2 separate regions of the Homo sapiens genome follow, and region 1 is linked to region 2. Evidence: fine-mapped expression QTL. A gene starts in region 2. The other region holds a variant in brackets. All regions are shown on one strand. Distances are between the middles of the regions. Region 1 overlaps SLC2A12 (solute carrier family 2 member 12). Region 2 holds the start of TBPL1 (TATA-box binding protein like 1).

What was found. PIP is the estimated chance that this variant, and not a neighbour inherited with it, causes the effect.
Region 1: its variant is the best candidate, but not a certain one, in a credible set for the expression of TBPL1 in esophagus muscle (GTEx, PIP 0.86).

What each region holds. Positions count from the first base shown.
Region 1 is chr6:134,019,023-134,021,937 of GRCh38, reverse strand. All of the region lies in intron 2 of SLC2A12 (solute carrier family 2 member 12), which reads left to right. Among named protein-coding and RNA genes, the nearest start is that of SLC2A12, 32 kb to the left of the region's middle. The variant C/T (reference allele first, on the strand shown) is at 1,713.
Region 2 is chr6:133,952,016-133,954,930 of GRCh38, reverse strand. It overlaps TBPL1 (TATA-box binding protein like 1), which reads right to left and starts at 1,707. Exons shown (of 7, transcript NM_004865.4): 1 at 1,506-1,707. It overlaps LOC128092253 (umcharacterized LOC128092253), which reads right to left and starts at 1,627. Exons shown (of 2, transcript NM_001414965.1): 1 at 1,506-1,627. The coding sequence starts at 1,627. RefSeq lists a silencer at 2,600-2,709.

The DNA of each region.
Region 1 (2,915 bases), 67 kb before region 2:
CCACTGCTCCACACCCAAGTCAATACACACAAAGCACTTGTTGTGGCCCCTTCCTTCCGCCTCTGCTCTATCCAGATCCTTCCTCTTTTTGAAGTTAAATGAAAGCTTTATCTCCTCTTTGAATCCACTCCATTTTTTAGAGGTCTTTATTTGTATGAACTACTAGTGTGTTTCTAGAGTAATTCAGTTCTGGGCTACCAAACGTATAAATTTAAAATCAGAAAACCTCTGTTCTAATCCCAGCTCTTCTACTTACTGGTGGTGTGACCTTTACGTGATTTTTCTTCTCTGAGCTATTTCTAATCTATGTAATGGGCATAGTAATATCTGTCCTATCTCCTAGAGTACAGGTGCACATCAGATGATCTAATGTATATGAGAGTGCTTTAGATGCTGTAAAGTATGAGAGTATGATATAATGTAAGTTACAATGTGAGAACACATCTTAGTCCTTAGCAATAGGGTATTACTTCTGTATGTTTATTTTGGTTTATTAACCAGAATGTAGTTATAGACTGTAAGCATTTTGAAGGAAGAAACATCTCATATTTTTTCTTTCTGTCCCTGTAAGTGAGCACAGCATGAGTCTGTTTAAAAATCATGCTGGTTTATTTACCTTTGTGTTTTTAAGCAGGAAGAAGGAAAAGGACTTAAAAATACGATGCAGACATAGGAAAAATGTCAAATTGGGCTTCTTTACTTGTGTAAAGATCTGGCTAGTGGGCAGGCTAGGAACTAAGTAAGCTAGAAATACTAGGCTGCCAAAAAAACTCCTGTTCCTGCCAGACACCATCACGAGGCTTTTTGCAGAACAATCCATCACTTGGGCATGATTTTTAAAAAATATCTTTCTGATTTTGGCTGTAAGAAAAGATGCAGGAGATTTAGTAGTGTTAAGAAACAATTAGCGGGAGATATTTAGGCATTTCTTTGTTAAGGCATACATAGTTATTCGAGAATTTTGGACACAATATCTAAAAGTTGTTCTGGATGCTTTTTGGATCCTCTGCTTTTTGCTACAACATGGAGAAGAGGGGCTTCGGAGAACTGCTTAGACCAGAAGCAATGCCAACGAGTTGGAGAATCTCAGGGTTGAAGGAAGTTTGGATCTAGGAAAAGGAAATACTTCTTACATCTCATGGACTGTCCAATTTACAACTGCAGGTGCAAGGACTGGCCTGGGTAATCACACGTGAGGCTTGGAGTCATGCTGTCAGAGGCAGGAATCCAAATCACATCTAAAGAGAACAGTCATTTCACATTCTTATCTTGAGGCTATGGATTCTCCTCGTGTTTTTAAAAGAGACCCAAATAATTCTCCATTTTTTTTCTTGCTAAGAGTCAATCCTTTACATCCATATTCACATTTTAGTTTCTTTTTCTTTTCTAAAGAAAATATCCTGTAGTAATTTCATTTCAATCCCCAATTGTATTCTAGAGCATTGGTATAAACTATATAAACTAGTTGGAGTTTAAAGAAGATTTTTATTAGGAACAAGCTTTTCATACCAGATCTTGAATGCATTACCAAACTTATTAAGCTGATGTGATTAGTGCTCAGGTATTTAGAGAGTTTATTGCTTGTAATACAAATAAATCCTTTGTGTAAATAGAGGTATGAAGGAAAAGTACTTGCTGTTCTAAAGTAACATTGAAAGCAAGATTAAACCATCCTTATTAGACCTTCTTAAATATGGATTGGCTTAGAACAA[C/T]ATTCCTTAATTGTGTTAGATCACAGCATGATTTTCTTCTGCCAGGAAAGTGTTTCTATTCTTAGGTTAAAGTGGATGCCCCACGTCATTTTACTTTCTGGTCCCCTGTTCCCCTAACTGTAAAATAATTGGGTTGCCCCAGAATTTAGAATCCAGGAGGGGTACTCATGTAATCTTACATACTTTTTTTTTTTTTTTTTTGAGATGGAATCTCACTCTGTTGCCCAGGCTGGAGTGCAGTGGCTCGATCTCGGCTCACTGCAATCTCCGCCTCCTGAGTCCAAGCGATTCTCCTGCCTCAGCCTCCTGAGTAGCTGGGATTACAGTTGTGCACTACCACCAGGCCTGGTTAATTTTTGTAGTTTTAGTAGAGACGGGGTTTTACCATATTGGCCAGGCTGGTCTTGAACACCTGACCTCAAGTGATCCACCTGCCTTGGCCTCCCAAAGTGCTGGAATTATAGGCATGAGCCATTGCGCCCAACATCTTATGTACTTCTAGAATGCATTTAAAATATTATTCTAAGAAGGGGTCCATAGGCTTCACCAGCCTACCGAAGAGGTTCATGGCCCCAGAGAGGCTAAGAGCCCCTCCCTTCCATTTTTCTGTAGCTAATATTAAAACCCGTATGTCAAACAAAATCAGGATATATACTTATTAAACACTCTGTTGTCCATAACTTATCTTTCACTTCAAATATGTTCAAAATCTTACCTCGACTCCCCACTGTTTCTGGGGTGCTCTTGATCATCACTTCAGCTCCCTTTAATAACAGAATTTTTCTAACATGGTTCAAGCTTTCACAACGTAGAATCACAGATTCTTGACATTGTGAAGACACAGAACAACGTGAAGATTTTTATATTCATGCTTCACAAGTAAAGTCAAGATGAGCCAAAACCCAAGGCATAATGTTATTATTTCATGAGTTCATCTGAGGTGACACTTGTGTAGAAACCCAGCCCTCCTTAAAATAGCCACTGAAACTCCGGAAAATATATGTGACTGTTTTTTTTATAATAATTATTAGGGCTTTTTATCCAAAAATTAATATGCCCATAAATTAATTAATTAACCTCTTCTTTCATCTCATGATGAATAAGTTTTCACTTTGAGCAGATGGAAGGCATGTTTCCCAAGGTCACATACGAAGTTAGGTGATAAAGCTGCGACTGTCATCCTTCAGCTACCTTTGTATTCAC
Region 2 (2,915 bases):
AAGCTTAAGATGAAAACGCCTGAGTTGAAGCTATATTCTGGCTAGCCCTCATTCAGGAACAAGCCAGCCCAATCAAGGGCACATAGTAATAGGTCACTAGAGTTTCTGATACTGATTTTGAGGGCAGAGGGTACGTAAAGAGGAGGCTGGGGAAAGGATGACACCTTTTTGCTTAGGAGAAGTCAGGTTTAACAAAAGGGGTGGGGAACAAACAGAAGCTGTGGTTGACCTAATTGCTCCTATGATTTATCAATTTTATTTTCATCTTTAATCTTCAACTTTACATAAAGAACTTTGTATGTATATGTGGCCTTTTCATTGTGCTACAGGAAAACCTCATTTACTCACCCAAAATGATTTTGTAAAGTATAAAACCATTAAGCAGCTTGTGATGTAAGACTAAAGAGGTAACATAAACTGATATTTCACTGGGCATACCAAACTGTGAATAATCCTTTCAACCAGATAGTGCTAACAGTCACTTCTCAATAGGAAGGAACTGCCATTTTCTCAAAGAGACTGCGAAATTATGCCAGGATGGCTGAACCTTCTTATGTCTCTTTTTATATTTTCCCAGAGAATCCACATTGCTTACACACACACACGCAAACCTGCTCCCTTTTCTTAAGTCACAGTTTTAAGGCACTGTTCTAAACCCTAAATACAGAAGCTCATGCACTTACTGCCAGTGTCGCTTTGGAACTGCAGGTGACAGATGCAGTCAGAGAGCTCACAGATGTGGATTGACTGCAGTTTGAGTCTTATTGCAATGAGCACATTGACAGAGCCTGCAGATGCACATCTCGGCAGGAGAGATTTTCTTTTTAAGCCCTCATGCCCTATTAGATTTACTTTTAGGGCTTTTATTGGCTATTTTTATCACTTATCCCGACTCTCATCCCTGCTTAGCCCTACCCACAATTCATTTTCTCTTCTTCAGTTCTAGATCCTTCTCCATCAATCCTAATTTTGGTCAAAAATAATAATAAAATAAAGCGAGGCTGCCGGCATTGCCAGAATCAGAAACCGACGAAGCCGCTTTTTGGGAGCTATTAGAGAAGCCGCTGTAAGTTTTCTGAGAAGCAACGGACCCCTAGCATCTTTGCACGGTCCCTCTTCCCCTGGGTGATGGCTCCGAGACAGATGAGGAATCTCTTTTCCCCGTCTTTCCCAGTGGTGGCTTAAACGAAAGATAACCCTTCTTTTCTTATCCTACACCAGGCTCGGTAACGCTCCCAGGTACGGACGCCCCACCCCCAACCCGTTATCCCTAAAGAGATCCCCAAATATCGCCCGGTCCTCTTCAGAACTGAGCCCTCCCTCGGCCACCGGACCGGTTTCCCCCACCTCAGCGGCTGCCCTCCAGTCGCCCGCCCCCACACATCCCACCCCAAGTCTGGCCCGGGCTCCGCACATGCCCACCCCGCGCCCAGACGCCCCGCACCCGGTGCTCAGGCCGCTCAGCCGCCCGCGCTCCCTGTGCCCAGGGTCGCCTAGGGGGTTACCGTGGGAAGAGGGAGCGGTGGCTGAGGACGCGGCGGCAGCGCTGCTGCCGGTTGCGTCGGATGCGAAGGAGAAGCTGGAGGACAAGGATGAGGATGAGACGGGCGCGCTCCCCAGTCTCCATGGAACTCCCGCCCCGGCCCGTTGCTAGGAGCCCCCGAGGCTCGGACTCCGTCTTCCTTGCTTTGTTGTTCCGGGTGCGAGGCGGCCGCAGCTTCCCCGCGACAATAAATAGACTAGACGCTGGGGAGCATAGAGACAGTGCGCGAGGGCTAGAGCGCCGCCGGACAGGGCGCTCCTGGGTGCCTCGCTAGCCACTCATTTCCGGCTCTCACTGCTCCCGTCACTTTCCCCGTCCCCCGCCCCCACCCTTCCTTCCTCCTTCCTGGTCCCCAAATCAGGCCCCTCCTGCCCACCCGCTGGGCTCGGTGGGAGGTAAGAGGTGGGATGGGGGCGGCGCTAATGGGCATCGGACTAGACTTTTTTGTTTAAGAACCGCTTGAAAGGGTTCTGAAAACACCGTGTATCCTTTGTATATTTTTAGTTGATATCTAAACGTGTAGTAATTTCTGGCATACAGTCGAATATTTAGGTGGACTTTTTTGTCAAAACCGTAGAACTTTCTCATCAGCTCATTAAATTTATACAAAAGGTCCTCCCCACCCCCCATTATATAATTGCTAAAGCTAGTCCTTACCGTCCAGACGAGACTTGTTTTCTGCCTGAAAAAAGTCCTTCGCTTTTTCAGTCAAAATGAACCCGTTAATTTATGATGTCGCGATAAATTCCCCTAGTGAGATTCCTCACTAGGCGAATTGGAATCCTGGTCTTAGAGCGACCGGGGATGACAGATGACAGACGGAGGGAAGGAAGTGGGGAGAGATGGAGACACAAGGTGTGGCGAGACGGAGGGATAACGCAGGACCGTATGCCACTTCTGTCGCCTGTCCCACATTCCTTACTCTACGTGGGTTTGCGGTCGGGACTGTCCCTCGGGAACCGAGAGGCGGATCCAGGAAGGATGGGAGTGGGAGAGGGCGGATGCTGGCGAGGACTCAGGCAGCCCGGGATAGGAGGACCTCTAGGAACGGAGACCCTCCGCGGCTCTGCGCCCAAGTAGCCCTGCAGGGGCCGGGGGACCCCGGGGGCGCACAATGGCCCGTTTGAACCGTCGCCCTGGGGCCCGAGTGCGTCCTCGGGGTCCCTCGGGAGTGGCCTGAGAGGCGCTGCCCGCGGGAGCGAAAATCGCGTAACGGCCCTGAGGGCGCCACGCCACGCCACGCCACGCCACGCCGCGCGGAAGCCCCCGGCTCCCGGCCCCACGTTTCCCACTCTCAGGCCGGCATCGGCCTTTCCACCAGAGCTCGGCTGCAGTCAGAAGCCCCTGGCGTTAGTTGAGGTCAATGGCAGCC